Linked DNA regions of Homo sapiens: region 1 is linked to region 2. Evidence: fine-mapped expression QTL. Tissue or cell type: thyroid. Region 2 holds a variant in brackets; the other region holds the start of a gene. All regions are shown on one strand. Distances are between the middles of the regions.

Evidence for each region. PIP is the estimated chance that this variant, and not a neighbour inherited with it, causes the effect.
Region 1: it holds the start of BEND7, and the variant in region 2 is fine-mapped to the expression of BEND7 in thyroid (GTEx, PIP above 0.99).

The regions. Positions count from the first base shown.
Region 1 is chr10:13,524,465-13,532,647 of GRCh38, reverse strand. It overlaps BEND7 (BEN domain containing 7), which reads left to right and starts at 3,634. Exons shown (of 9, transcript NM_001369863.1): 1 at 3,634-4,175; 2 at 6,427-6,510. The coding sequence starts at 4,115. It overlaps BEND7-DT (BEND7 divergent transcript), which reads right to left and starts at 4,044. Exons shown (of 2, transcript XR_930674.3): 1 at 3,996-4,044; 2 at 2,384-2,628.
Region 2 is chr10:13,564,038-13,572,220 of GRCh38, reverse strand. No RefSeq gene overlaps it. Among named protein-coding and RNA genes, the nearest start is that of PRPF18, 19 kb to the left of the region's middle. The variant G/A (reference allele first, on the strand shown) is at 3,740.

The DNA of each region.
Region 1 (8,183 bases), 40 kb after region 2:
TTCAGGTTTTCTGGCCAAATTATCTGGCTTTGTCAAAGATTGAAACCAACATGTAATCTTTATAATCAAGTGGGTTTAAGCATGGCCATATAATAAAATGTTTGCCCTGCGTGATGTCATTGAATATTTGACCAATTATCTCTGATCTCCAGTAACACATAAACCTGTGGTTCTGGAACTTTAGGGGGCCTTTAAGAATGAGGCAAAGAGTGCTAGCTTCGGCAGCACATATACTAAAATTGGAAAGAATGGGGTAAAGAAATGACTTCAGTAGATCCCCTAGAAAACTTTCCAGGACCCCTCAATACAGACATTATATTTGAGTGAAAACAAGATGGCTACAGACTGATTTGTGTCCCCCACAAACTCATATGTTGAATCCCTGACTCCTAACGTGACTGTATCTGGAGATTGAACCTTTAATAGAAGGTAATTAAGGTTAAAAGAGATCATAAAGGCGGAGCCCTAATTTGATAAGATTGGTGGCCTTACAAGAAGAGGGAGAGAAAGACAGCTCTCTTCCTATGCCATGTAAGTGTAGTGGTGTGCAAGCTAAGAAAAGGGCCCTCGCCAGAAACTGACCCTGCCAGACCTAGATCTGAAACTTGCAGCCTTTAGAATGGTAAGAAAATAAGCTGCTGTTAAGTCACCCAGTATGTGGTATTTGTTAAGATAGCCCGAACAGGCTAATACAGTAGTCCCCCTTTATCCATGATTTCAGTTACCTGCAGTCACCTATGGCCTGCAAATATTGAATGGAAACTTCCAGAAATAAACAATGCATCAATTTAAAATTGTGCCCCATTTTGAGTGGCATGATGAAATCTTTAGCCAACCTGCTCCTTCCGGCCCAGAATAGGAATCATTCTTTAGCCTAGCGTATTCACATTGTCTGCACTATCTGCTCGTTAGTCACTTGTTGGCTTGGTTATTAGAAAACATAAAACAATAAAAAACACGGTATATATGGGGTTTGATGGTAACATAGTATATACGGGGTTCGGTACTATCCTCAGGTTCAGACATCCACTGAAGGTCTTGGACATACTCCCCAAGGATAAGGATCAGCTACTATATGGATACCTGCTACTTAAAGCAATCTCACTTTATGTTTTATTTTATATTTTAATTTTTTGGTAGAGACCGGGTCTCAGGATGTTATCCAGGTTGGTCTTGAATTTCTGGCCTTAAGCAATCCTTCTGTATCCCAAAATGTTGGGATTACAGGTGTGAGCCACTACACCTGGCCCCAAGCAACCTCATTTTAATTAAACATTATTATTAATTTTAATACTAAATGTGATATATACATTTTTGTTAGATAAGAGCATAGTGATTTGCACAAAATGCAGAGTAAACAGACATTTATTTTCTCTAAAAGCTAATAAGACAAGCGTAGCCTGTGTCCTCTGCAGGCCAACTCACTCATAGACCAACTTTGGAAAGCCAGGTTAAAAAGGGTCAAGGAGAAATGACTACTATTTAAAAATATTCTTACTCAAATATTTTATTCTTAACTATATCAAAAATATTCTCTTCAGTAAATGGAATTTGCATTCCCACTTGAACTGAAAATGCTAAGTTGTTAATACCTTCTCCAGGGATTTACTTCTTGGGATGACACCTTCACTGGGTTCGTCATAGTTTAAGCATAATAAAATCTCATTATATGCTCCAAAGCATGAACGATCCGGGAAGTTCCTCAGTCAGTGTAGAACTTAGCCTTACGGCTTTGAGAATAACATTTTAAAAGGCATTACATAAAGAAAGAATGGATCCCAGCCTGGGGAACAAAATTGCATGCTTTGTTTCTTTAAAAACATCCAAAACAGCCGGACGTGGTGGTTCACGCCTGTAATCCCAGCACTTTGGGAGGCCTAGGCGGGCTGATCACTTGAGGTCAGGAGTTTGAAACCAGCCTGGCCAACATGGCGAAACCCCATCTCTACTAAAATACAAAAAATTAGCTGGGCGTGGTGGCCCATGCCTGTAATCCTAGCTACTTGGGAGGCTGAGGCAGGAAAATCGCTTGAACCCGGGAGGTGGAGGTTGCAGTAAGCTGAGATCGCACCACTGCACTCCATCCTGGGCGACAGAATGAGACTCTGTCTCAAAAAATAAAAAATAAAAAAAAATCCAAAACATCTTCAGATTTTAATGCCTGATTTTAAAGAAAGGGGTGGCAGGGAAGGAAGAAACCCAAATAGGGTAGTTGCTTTAATCACTGTTACCACTAATTTTCTGAGAGCAGCAAAGCGCGTCTAAGAACTCCAATAAATCTATACTAAATTTTATATGTCCCATACATATTTTCTGGGAAAAAGGGCCCTTGAGCTTTGAACACAATCTCAAAGGAAACAGTGACTAAAAAAGGTTAAGAACCTCTTGTTGAAGGGTTTGCTTTATTGAACGGAAGAAACAGTTCTCCCTCTCCCCTCCACGCTAGGTATAACCAGCCTTCCGGATGTGCCGCCTTTGGTATCACCCAAGATCTCGGGATGGGTACCCATCCCTGCCTCCACTGCCTGGTTTGCTGGTTACCCTGCTCTTTGGTTCTGTTTCTCCATGTGTGTTTCTGCAAGCTGCCTCAATGTCCCCCTTCCTCGGCAGTTGTCCTACTCTGTGTCCCTGAAATAAGAGCGGTTCCTCAGCGGCTGCCTCATTTGGGTGAGACCCACGTGACACTCATCACATTTGTCAACCTCCCCTTTTTCCTCTCTACTCTTTTGGGGCCACTGGCCTTTGTCCCGTGCCGGAGAGGTAGCCCCCCCATCCCCCGACTCTTTACCCTCTTCCTGGTTGGGTTTGGCAGATACTTTCACGCATGTCCCGTCATGTTCCTGTCCTACCATTCCCAGGTAGTGTGAAATTCTTTTCCTGGCCCACTCGAAAGATGTGAGAAAGAAATGGTGCCTGAAGTGCGCTCTCTGATCCCCCGAAAAGAATATTACACATAACTACTAAGCGCTTTGTGTTTGGGTCCATGATTCCGACATATGACGTGGAGAAGCATAGTGCCCTGCACCTGCCTTGACCATGGCCTCCTGAGAGTCCCCAGGGCCACCAAGCCCCCCATTCCAAGTGCTCTCCTTGAATGTGACTCGGCTCTTTCCACAATCCGCCCAGCCTGGGTTAGGGAATGGGAGCTCTCTACTATATTCTTCTCCACAATATTCTAAAACCTCCTCTCTGTCCTTCTAGAGAGAGCGCAAATGGGTAAGTTTTTTCCCCCTAAAACTTGCTTAAAATCAGCGCGTCGGGCCCCGGGGCGCCCGGGATGTGAGGGCGGGGAGGTGGTTGTCGGGGCGGTCCGCGCCCCCACGGCGAGGTGCACGGAGTTAGCTCGGCCCAGCAAGCGGCGGAGGGAGGCCAGCGAGCGGGGTCTGCGAGCGGAGGCCCGGGCGGCGGCGTCGTCCCCGGGGGCAGGCAGGCCGGCCGGGCCCGGGCCAGGGCGCTGCGCCGCGGCCTCCGCGCCTCCTCGGGGCGCCGCGCGGCCAGGCCGGCGGCGGCCCCCGGGGATGGCGGCGGCCGGGCTCCGCCAGCAGGTGGCCCTGGGGTCCCAGCGGCACCGCCCCCTCCGCCGGCGCCCCTCCTCCCGCGGGGGCGGTCAGCGCCCCGGCCGGCTCTGCACCCGCCGCCGCCCTCCCCGCAGCCCGCCCGCCGCGTCTTCGGGGCCGCCGCCGCCGCCGCCGCGACCGCAGGCTGAGCCCAGGCGGGCCGGCCGCCCCGAGCCGCCCCCCGCCTCCGCCGCCGCCGCCGCGCCCCGGCCCGGCCCGCTCCCAACGGAAAGTTGGGCTGCGGCGGGCGGCGTCTGGAACCCGCGGGCCGGCATGAGCGGGGGCCGCGGGGGCGCCTAGGGCACCGGGAGGCGGCGCCGCGCGGGGGCAACTTCGCCCGGGAGCCCACGCCGCCGGGCCCCGCGCCTGCAGCCCCGAGCCGGCTCGCGGTGGTTCCTCCCGTCCCGCGGCCTCCCCTCGCCGACTCCAGGCGCGGACCTTGGTCCCGGCGGCTCCGCCGCGGTGACACGAGCCCGCGCCGCCGCTGCCGCTGCCGCCGCTGCCGCTGCCGCCGCTGCCGCCGCCTCCTCAGCCCCCGCCGCCGCCTTCCCCGCACCATGGAGTTCTCCGAGAGGAAAAGAAGCAGGAAATCCCAGAGCTTCAAACTGGTGAGCCGAGGTAAGCGGCCGCCGGGGCGGCGGGGGCAGGCAGCGGGCGCCGCGCCCTCGGCCGCCCGCGGGGGTCCACGCTGGGGGGCGCGCCCTCCCGGAGCCCCCGGTCCTTCCCGGTCCCCCGGTGCCTCCGCCGGGCTGGCAGGCAGGGCCGCGGCCGCACACGCCGGGCGGCGGGGAAAGTTGTGCGGGGGGAGCAGGGATGTTATTTAACGTAAACAAGTCGGAGGGCAGCTCAGGAAATTAGCAAACAATGACACCGGGGGGCCCGAGCCCTCCTCGGGGCGCCTCCGGGGCAGGGCTGGGGCGGCCGCGGACCTGCCTGGCCATCAGGCCGAGCGTGGACCCTCGGACCTGAGATTTGCTGTTTTTGTTTTCTGGGGTCTTCCCCCTTCCCCCCGCCAAGAGAAGGAGGAAAAAGGATGACCGTTGTTGTTCTTTTTAAGAAGGAGAAAGAAGCTCACGCCGTGTCCAAGCCCAAGGCGGAATTGTTGACATCCAACATCTCTAGCTAGCTGATTTGGGTTGGAAAGGTGTTTTAGACTAGATCATATAGCAGTCAGATAAGCATCCTTTAAAAAAAAGAAAAAAGAAAAGAAAGAAAAGAAATCCATCTAGTTTCTGACGAATTAACAGGTGTACACCACACTCTAGGGTTTGTATTTTGTCAGGGAGGGGAAAGTGGAATACAGTCTTGTCTGTGTTCAGTTACTTGTTAAGAGTCTTTATCTTCCTGATTTGACTTTTTTTTTTAAAAAAATGATAACTCAAGAGCCATCGTGAAAATATATCTCAAAATGCATTGTCATCTTTAATTAGGGGCAGGTGACTTTTTTCATTGTAATGTCACAAGTCCTCATATTGAGTTTAGACCCGCTCTGTTTAAATGTCGTCTTTTAATCAAGTTGAGGTCAAAGCCAAACCCCAACCTGTCCACTTTTCCTCTGTCGTTTTCTCTAGCATTGGCATCAGGGTAGAAACTCCAACAACCTGCAGAAGTCACGTGTAAACTGATGAAAATTAGTGAAAAAATCGTGGACAATTGCAAGTAATCGAATTTTTCAAACTGAGCTAAGCTAGCTAAGATGTGGATTTGGTTCATCTGAAAATGCTTTGATTATAGGCATTTTGAAGATCCATTCTTATCTGCCTCCCCTAATTTAGTTTGGATACTGTTTAATGAAAGAGGCCTGAAATAGTTTCACGCATTCAAAATACTTGGCTCTTCCCACTTTCTGAGTAAATTTTTTTTTCCACATCCGTGTTGATTACTCAGTTACTTGGACTTTTAAAAGTCTCTGTCTGGGTGATTGCCCTGTTGGTGCTATCTGATTCATTCAGGAATGTAAGCTGCTTTCTTATTGATGACCTCAGAGAACTTAACTGCTTTATCTTAAAAGTGAGAGTAGTTTTGTTGACTTTGTCCTGTGAGGTCTAAGGCCAGAGAAAGGGGACTAGGTGTTAAGGAGGAACCTCTATTTTCATGCCTTAGTGACCCTGCTTTTCAAAAATAGAAGCAAAAATGCAGTAGCCTCCATAGAGAAGCTTGTAAAATACTGTATTTGAAACTTTGACTGACGTAGCAAGTTTTTCCTTTTTCCTTTTTTCTTTTTCTTTTAATTATAGGTCTGATTCTTCTCTTTCTCTGCAGGTGCAGTTTTAGAAAATAAACTTGCATATTAAATAAAGTGCAGTAGCTGAATGCGAAAGAGTCACTTGTGTGAAAGATGAAAATCTTGCTTTCTTATCCAAATCATACTACATTTGAAATAACAAATCAGTATTTTTCATGTGTGCTTGCCTTTAAGCTGCTTAAAGGCTGAGATTTTCTGGGTAAACTGAGAAAACTAGAGTGCTGGCTAAACTTTAAAGCATACTGTTGATATGCTGGTGAAAATGGGTTGTGAAGAGAAATTTGGAAACCTCCCCTGCTCTATGATTGGGCAAACATACTTGCCACCTCAAAGAAAAAAAGCCTAAAAATTGGCATCTGTGGGTACAATTTACCGTGAACATGGTGTGATCAAGCAAAGCTGTCTTCTAAAGCCAAAGTAATCTTTCAAGTTTGCGTACTCCAGAATAAGCAAAGTTTTAGGAATTATTATTGACTACAAATTCTGTGATTATTTCAGTTCTCAAAAAGTTTATTTATAAATTATAGAGTATACAAACTAAATAGAATGAGATTCTAGACTTGACTGCTTATTCCTATCTTGAGGTCCTTAGGATTCTAATTTTTGGTTGTTTTCTCATGCCAGATTATCACCACGAGGTGTATAAGATCCCAGAATTCAGCAACGATGTTAATGGGGAGGCCAAAGAGACACAGCCCATTTTTTTAGGTAGGTTCCTATGTCAATTAATACCTCAGCAAAACATCGTGACCATTTGCAATTAGGGGGAAAAAAGGAAATTGTTCAGGAACGGGAAATGTCTGCCATTGCTTAATGTATGACATTCTTTTCAAGACCTTTTATTTTACAGATTGCCAATATATCCCTTATTAACATTGCTAAAAGTTGTAATTTCAGACATAAATGTTTATTAGTGTCTACACACAGTGCTAATTATCACTCACTCACAGAGCCAGATGCTGACTGTGCAGTTTTGTGGCTCTGCGCTCACCCCATTTACATTGCATATTCGTTGGCATGCTTCACTGGCAATAGTTTGTGTAATTGGGGTATTACATCTTTGACATCTGGATAACAGAAATTCAATTTCCAGGAAGCTGCTATTTGTTTGGTTTTGCTTCTGCCTTGGGTGGGATAGAGGATTAATGTGCTGTCTTATAATGTCCCTTCACCTCTGTGGCCCAGTTGCTAATCCTGCCATGACAAAATTAAATTAAATCTACAGTCAAAAAGCATAAGGAAAATAAAAGTGTGACTGTCTGCCTAACCAGCTCTTGATAGTGCTAGTTATCATCAAGCAGCTCCTCATTTTCCTGACTTTGTGCTCCTTTCACACCAGCATTTTGGGACAGGGGGAACAGCATGCTTTCCTCTTACCATCCTTGTTCCCAGCTCACGTCAGGGATGAGCAGAGCTAAAACAGCATTTCTGAGACTTTCCAGCAAGTGTAGCTGCATGATGGGTGGGTAGGTAGCCACAAACATTGCCACCTTTTCCATGTGCAGTGTTGGTGCAAATACTGTACAGGAAAGACTTTGGATGTGCAGTTTTTTATTTGCACACAATCAGCCAAAAATGAAACCACGTAAGATTTTGCCTCTAAGAGTGAAGTACCCATAAGGTCAGGGTGGAGAGTAGATGGTGGCGTTGGGCCTCAACCTTGTCCATCTTGGACCTCTGCAATCCCAGGTAGCAGGGTGAGGGCACAGCACTGCACAGCAAGGAAGCAGAACATGAGAGAGGTCAGAGCGAGAACGATTACAAGCAAAGCCACAATTACCCCATCAAGGGGGACTTCAGGTAGCAGGACTGCTGCTCAGACCCGGTGTGGGTCAGCCTTCAAACGAAGCTCTCGCCAGGATCTCTCTGGTTTTGCTTTGAGGGATAGAAAGGGTGGGTCGGGATGCATTGGGAAGAAGTCAAATATTAATATATACTTTAAGAGGAAAAATAGGAGGGAAATGTCAGCATTTCTTACATGAGCGATCATTGATAGCACATAGATCTTTCTGCTGAGGGAAAGAATATCACTGGGGCCAGCACTGCTCCCAGTACCTGTTTACTGTTAAGAGAGCTAGGAGCCAAAAGGTTAATAATCAAGTGAAATGCTGTGGCCCAGAAAGAGAATATTCTTGGATTCTAGTCTTTCCAGTCCCCTAAACTTGGTCAGTTGGAATTCTTTTTTTTTTTTTTTTTTTTTTGAGACGGAGGTTCACTCTTTTTATCCAGGCTGGAGTGCAATGGCATGATCTCGGCTCACTGCAACCCCTGCCTCCCAGGTTCAGGCGATTCTCCTGCCTCAGCCTCCTGAGTAGCTGGGATTACAAGCACCTGCCACCACGCTTGGCTAATTTTTTGTATTTTTAGTAGAGACAGAGTTT
Region 2 (8,183 bases):
TATAACATTCTGCCCCAAACATCAGAATACATACTCTTTTTAAAGTCCATTTGGAACATGCACTAAGATCATATTCTGAAGCATTAAACAATTCTCAATAAATTTCAAATAATTAAAAATATACGGTGTATGTTCTTTGACAACAATGAATTAAACTAGAAATAGCAGAAAAATATCTAGAAAACTCCAGTATTTGGAAATTAAACAGTACGGTTACAAATAATCCATAGGATCAAAAAAGTAATCACAAGGGAAATTAGCAAGTTTCATTTTTTTAGACAGGGTCTTGCTGTCACCCAGGCTGGAGTGCAGTGGCATGATCATGGCTTGCTGCAGCCTCCACCTCCTGAGCTCAAGTGATCCTCACACCTTAGTCCCCAAAATAGCTTGTGCCATGGTCATGTGCCACCACACTCGGCTCATTTTGTTTTTATTTTTTGTAGAGATAGGGTTTCGTCACATTGCCCAGGCTGGAAATTAGTAAGTATTTTGAACTAAGCTAAGCACAGTAGTACACACTTGTCCCAGCTACTCGGGAGACAGAGGTGGGAGAACCACTTGAACCTGCGAGGCGGAGGTTTCAGTGAGCTGAGAGTGCACCACTGTACTCCAGCCTGGGCAACAGAGAGAGATTCTGTCTCAAACAAACAAACAAGCAAACAAACAAAACCCTGTGGGGTGGAAATAGAAATCTCCAAGTCCTGAGAGTTTCACTGGAGACTTATCATATATTTAAAGTAGTAACACCAATTTTGCAGTTCTTCCAGAAAATATAAGAGGGAGTACTTCCCAACTAATTTTTATGAGGCCAGTTTCCCAGAAACCAAAACCTAACAAACACATTACAGAAAAATAAAACTATAGACCAATATCACTTATGAACTTAGACACAAAATTCCTCAACCGAATATTAGCAACTTGAATCCAACAATGTATAAAAATCATTATACACCATGAAAAGGTAGGATTTTTTTCTTTCCATAGCTTTTGGAGTACAAGTGGTTTTGGTTACACAGATGAATTGTAGAGTGGTGAAGTCTAAGATTTTAGTGTGCCTGTCACCCAAGTCCTGTACATTGTACTGAATATGCAGTTTTTTATCCCCCACCGCCCTCCCACCCTCCTTCCTTCTGAATCTCTAAAGTCTATTATACCAGTGTGCATGACTTTGCATACCCATAGCTTAGCTCCCACTTACAAGTGAGAATATACTGTGTTTGATTTTCCATTCCTGAGTTACTTCTCTTGGAACAATGGCCTTCAGCTTCATCCAGGTTGCTGAAAAGACATTATTTCACTTTTTTACAGCTGAGTAGATTCTATGGTGTATATATACCACATTTTCTTTACCCACTCATCGGTTGATTGGCACTTTGGTTGATTCCATATCTTTGCAATTGTGAATTGTGCTGTGATAAATATATATATGCAGGTGTCTTCTTGATAGAATGACTTCTTTTCCTTTGGGTAGATACCCAGTAGCCAGATTGCTGGATCAAATGGTAGATCTACTTTTGTTCCTTAAGAAGTCTCCATACCACTTTCCATAGAGGTTGTACTAACTTACATTCCCACCTTCCTTTTTTAGCATGTCTGTGCCAACATCTATTGTTTCCTGACTTTGGTTTTTTTTTTTTTTTTTTTTTTTTTGAGTCAGAGTGTCGCTCTTGTTGCCCAGGCCGGAGTGCAGTGGTGCAATCTCAGCTCACTGCAACCTCCGCCTCCTGGGTTCAAGTGATTCTCTTGCCTCAACCTCCCGAGTAGCTGGGATTATAGGCGCCCGCCACCACATCCGGCTAATTTCTTGTATTTTTAGTAGAGATGGGGTTTCGCCATGTTGGGCAGGCTGGTCTCGAACTCCTGACATCAGGTGATCTGCCCACCTCAGCCTCCCAAAGTGCTGGGATTACAGGCTTGAGCCACTGCACCTGGCCTGTTTTCTGACTTTTTAATAATGGTGGTCTGGCTGGGGTAAGGTGGTATCTCTTTGTGATTTTAATTTGCATTTCCCTAATGATTAGTAATGTTGAGCATTTCTTCATATATTTGCTGGCCATTTGTATATCTTCTTTTGAGAAATGTCTATTCATGTCATTTGCCTACTTTTTGATGGGATTATTTATTTTTCTGGCTGGTTTGTTTGAGTTCCTTGTAGATTCTGGATATTAGCCCTTTGTTGGATGCATCGTTTGCAAATATTTTCTCCCATTCTGTGGGTTGTCTGTTTACTCTGATGATTATTTCTTTTGGCATGCAAAAGCTTCTTCAATACAGTCCTATTTATTTATTTATTTATTGCATTTGCTTTTGGGGCCTTAGTCACAAATTATTTTCCTAGGCCAATGTCCAGAAGGGGTTTTCCTAGGTTTTCTTCTAGAATTTTTATAGTTTCAGGTCTTAAAGTCTTTGATCCATCTCGAGTTGATTTTTTTATATGGTGAGAGACAGAGACCCGGTTTTATTCTTCTACATATGGCTATCCAGTTTTCCCAGCACCTTTTATTGAATAGGTTGTCCTTTCCCCAATTTATGTTTTTGTATGCTTTGTTAAAGACCAGTTGGTTGTAAGTATTTGGCTTTACTTCTGATTTCTCCACTCTGTTCCATTGGTCTATGTATCTACTTTCATACCAGTACCATGCCATTTTGTTTAATATAGCCTTGTAGTATAATTTGAAATCAGGTAATGTGATGCTTTCAGATTTGTTCTTTTTGCTTAGAATTGCTTTGGTTATTCAAGGACATAAAGTAGAACTTGTTCCAGATATGCAAGAGTGGCTCAACAAACAAAAATTGATTAATTAAAAATTTATCAATGTAATCCACTGTATCAACTGGCTAACAAAAAAAAATCATGTGACCATCTTAGTTGACACACACACAAAAAGCATTTGACAAAATCCAACACTCATTCATGATAAAAACTTGCAGCAAAGTAGGAAAGAGCATTTACCAAAAACCTACAGTCACCATCATATGTAATGGTGAAAGACTGAATGTTTCCTTGTTGGGTTGGAGAAACAACCCAAATATACATGTCAACTAATGAATGGATAAATGCACCATAGTATCATTCATTCAAAGGAACTGTATTCTGAAATAAAGAAGGAATGAACAGCTGATATATGCAACAACCTGGAAAGTCCCAAAACAGTATGTTAAGTGAAGTATTCCAGACACAGAATACTATATACTACATGATTCCGTTTATATGAAATTTCAGGAGCATTAAAAATATAGTGATAGAAAGATTAGTGACTGCCAGGAGCTGGGGCTTGGGCTGGGAATTGACTGCAGAGGGTCACGAAGGAGCATTTTTTGGAGGAGGAGGGAAATGGAAATATTCTATATCATAGTGGTTAAAAAGACACATGCACCCCCTCCCTAAACATCTTATCCTCTGATATATTCCATACTCTTCCTATTGTATCCACTCTTTAGCATCCTCTGCCACTGCATCCTTCTGTGTTAGCCATCACATCCAAAATATACAATCTTCACAGGTTTGCATCAAAAAGAGCACCACTGGCCGGGCGCAGTGGCTCAAGCCTGTAATCCCAGCACTTTGGGAGGCCGAGGTGGGTGGATCACCTGAGGTCAGGAGTTCGAGACCAGCCTGACTAGTATGGTGAAACCCCGTCTCTACTAAAAATGCAAAAATTAGCTGGGCATGGTGGTGTGCGCCTGTATTCCCAGCTACTCAGGAGGCTGAGACAGGAGAATTGCTTGAACCCAGGAG[G/A]CAGAGGTTGCAGTGAGCTGAGATCGTCCCACTGCACTCCAGCCTGGGTGACAGAGACTCCATCTCAAAAAAAAAAAGCACTGTTTATAACTACTTATAACTACAGCTGCTACAATTGACAGCACGTTCCAAAAGGAGGGACAGAACATTGAGAACATTGCAAGTGGCAGTAGTAATGGCCATGGGAAAAGCTGGCTATGAATGTCCCCCACGTGTTAGAAATATCTATCAAGACACCGTTAAAGACCACATTTCACCCAGTTTAACGTGACTTTTTTTTTCAGTTTTAACTTCTCTGAAAAGGGGACATATTTTTTCAGTTGATGACATCACGCAGTTATAATTGAGAATGTTTATTTTTCCTTCTTAGTGGTGAATTTTTTTAATGGTGCACTTTTTTTTAAATTATACTTTAATTTCTGGGGTACATATGCAGAATGTGCAGGTTTGTTATACAGGTATACACGTGCCATGGTGGTTTGCTGCTCCCATCAACCTGTCATCCACATTAGGTATTTCTCCTAATGCTATCCCTCCCCCAGCCCCCCACCCTCCGACAGGCCCCAGTGTGTGACGTTCCCCTCCTTGTATCTATGTGTTCTCAATGCTCAACTCCCACTTATGAGTGAGAACATGCAGTGTTTGGTTTTCTGTCCCTGTGTTAGTTTGCTGAGAATAATGGTTTCCAACTTCATCTATGTCCCTGCAAAGGACATGAACTCATCATTTTTTACAGCTGCATAGTATTCCATGGTATACATGTGCCACATTTTCTTTATCCAGTCTATCACTGATGGGCATTTGGGTTGGTTCCAAGTCTTTGCTATTGTGAACAGGGTGCACTTTTTTTATACCAGAGCAATTACATCAGAATCTCTGAATGAATGGCTGTCATAGAGTCAATAAAATATAGGATGGCTGGCCAGAAGACGCAGAGAATTTTGCTTTGGCTTTCAAGGGTAAGAAAGCAGAGGTGAGAGTCAAGGCAGAACTGGAAGCCTGGAACCCAAGTCCTGGATCTCCATGTTATGTTTGAAATTAATAGCCCCTTTCCCACCTATTCTTATCTCCAGTTAGGGCTGAAGAGGTGTGTTGCCAAGTGGTGCCAACAGCCTTTGGAATAAGAAGTCACAAATAGAGCTGAAAGAGATGGTGGAAGGGTAAGGGAACAAGAGCAGGTCCACTCAGCCACAAGTGGCAGCACAAACAGAAGCAACCAATTGATGGGCTTGGGCTTGGCTGGCTTAGGAAGAGTATGGCTGGCTAGTTGCATTATGAAATTGAGTAACTTGCCACAGGGCTCTTATGAAATCAGGAACTTGCTGCAGTGTTATAAATGGGACAGGGCCTCAGTACTATAATTACTTAATCTTTCTGTACTTCAGTTTCTTCATCTGCAGAATGGGAAATAACAGCAGTACCTGTGTAAGAGAATTAGCGTGTTGATTAAAATGAGATGCATGTAGTGGGCTAAAACAGTGCCTGGCATATGGTAAATACTCAATAATTTTAGATATCATTATATTCATTTCTGTGTTTTTACAGTTCATCCATCCGTTCTTTCATTATTTCAACAAACATTTATTTAGCATTTACGATGCTAGGAGCTGAATAGTTCATCACATTTCGTTAATGTTTATGCCTTTTTAATCTCCTTAGAAACGACCAGTGCCAAATGCCAATTCCTTATAATTCTTACTTACCATCCTCAATATATTTTATTTCTGTTTCATCCTCCTACCACTGAAAAGATTAGTTAAAATAGGGCCAGAGTTTCTACTCTTTACAATAAAAAAAAGCTACTGATTCATCCTAGAAAATACCAGATTTTAGCATGCCAACAATGATCTAGAAAAACACACAAGACTGAAAAAAAGAGAAGTAGAAAATGGCTTTGTCACTTAAAGAGGTATAATATTAGGCCAGTCATTTGCAAAATAAAGATCATACTTTACTTAACCAACAGAGATTTTGAGGCAAAAAAAAAAAATGAGATAAAGTGTTTCTAAATGTATAAATTTAATATTATAAATAGACCCTAAATCAGGGTAAGTTTCTGCTATCAAACATAACATGATTTTCTTTTGATTGCTGAAGATGTTTAGTAATTTAATATATTTACATGGTAACTTTCTACTAAAGAACCCCCAAGGCTGGGGGCAGTGGCTCATGCCTATAGTGCCAGCACTTTGGAAGGCCAAGGCGGGTGGATCACAAGGTCTGGAGTTCAAGACCAGCCTGGCCAATGTGGTGAAACCCCGTCTCTACTAAAAATACAAAAATTAGCCAGGCATGGTGGCAGGCACCTGTAATCCCAGCCACTCGGAAGGCTGAGGCAGGAGAATTGCTTGAACCTGGGAGGCAGAGGTTGCAGTGAACCAAGATTGCGCCATTGCGCGACAGAGCAAGACTCCATCTCAGAAAAAAAAAAAAAAGAAAGAAAGAAAAAGAAAAGAACCCCCCAAATTTCAGTCTCAAAACTCTTCAGAGATAAGGGACAGAATGTTGAATGCCATGACGTCCTTTTTGTGTGATCCCACCATGATTTATTTGAACTTCTCTTATTATGTTTAATAGTCTACTTTATTTTATATATTTTTGTATTTATTTAAGCCATCTTTTGAATCCCATCTTTCTTGAAGGCAAGAGCTGTTACAGCCCCTCTAATGGCAGTCATTGGCTGATTGTCTCAGGTGCCCACCTTATAATCCTGCCTTGAAATGGCCCCGTAGCCCACCTTTCCACCTTCACCTCCACTGCACGCCTCCCCTCCAAACATTACACCCATTTTCTTTTTTTATTTTCAACTGTAACCACCACACACTTTATTTTTCTTCGTCATAGATCTCCATTTTCCATTCATCCCCATTCTTTCTAGTGTTTTATCCCCTGTATTTGTCTGTTCTTGCATCACTATAAAGAAATACCTGAGACTGGGTAATTTATGAGTAAAACAGGTTTAATTGGCTCATGGTTCTGCAGGCTGTACAGGAAGCATGATGCTGGCATCTGCTCGGCTTCTGGGGAGGCCTTGGGAAGCTTCCAATCAGGGTGGAAGGCAAAGGGGGAGCAGATGCGTCTTAAATGGCCGGAGCAGGAGCAGGGGATGGGGGTGGGTACCACACACTTTTAAACAACTAGATCTCACAAGAACTCGCTGACTATCATGAGGACAGTATCGAGGGGGATGGTGCTAAGGCATTCATGGGAAATCTGCCCCTATGGTACAGTCACCTCCTACCAGGCCCCACCTCCAACCCTGGGGATTACAATTCAACATGAGATTTGGTGGGGATGCAGATCCAAACTGACAGAGCAGGAGCACTGTCTTCTTGGAAAAACACTGCCATTTTAAGTTCTAGCTCCCTTTCTACCCTCATGCGTTTCAAGGAAATCACTTCTCTTCTAACAAGAAAAAGCCAGAAAGGGCAGATAGCAAAACACAGATAAGACAGCTCGGGCCCAGAAGGAGTGGGGGAAAGTCTCTTGGGTAACCACCAAACTTCACACTCATACAATGGGCCCCAGTAAAACAGTGGGCCCTAATAAGCACATTCCTTTTCCTTTAGGTGCACTAAGCTAGGAAAGCTAAAAGCAGACTCAGTGGGTATGCCTGTACCTGCAGGAAGATGTATGGGAACAGACACAAAACTCTCTCTCCCAGATAAGCAAGACAAAGAGACACAGAAACATTCCCAGCCTGTGATGCGCTCTCTTGACCTGACCTCTTAAAAACTCTTAGTCTGTAAGAGAGAGTGCTCCTGACCTAATTCGGCCAGAAGCCCCTCTCAGGTTTATTCTTTAACATAAACCTGTCTTTGACTGTTGAGCCACTTTTTGTGCTTCTTTCTTCCTTCTTCAACTCTTACACAGACCATATCATCCACCAACAGTTACCTGAACGACTTTACGGTTCTTCCTCTCCCTCCATGATCCTTCCCTGATGTTTCCACTTTCCCACTTTCTACCACCTCTTGGCTTCATTCCCTTGTCCTATCACTTGCCCAGCTTTCTTCTGAATTCCCATAGTGGGTATCAGCCCTGTTGAAAGATCTCTATTGCCTGTGGGAGGAAGCTGGGTGCTGAGGAGCAGTTTCTTGTCAGCTTTGGCAAAGTGGTCAGGTGAGAACTGGACCAGGTGAGGAGGAAGACCCACACGTGTCTTCCTCCTCTGGAAGAAGGAGGGTTAGCAGACAAGGAGGGTTAGCCACAGGCAGGCAATAGAGAATTTGGGCCATTGTCAAAATGCCAAACAGGCTGTGTGCAGTGACTCATGCCTGTGATCTCAATACTTTGGGAGACTGAAGCAAGAGGACTGCATGCGATCAGGAGTTCAAGACCAGCCTGGGCAACAGAGCGAGACTGCTTCTTTACAAAATACTTAAAAGTTAGCCAGGTGTAGTGATGCATGTCTGCAATCCCAGCTACTTGGAAGGCTGAGAGG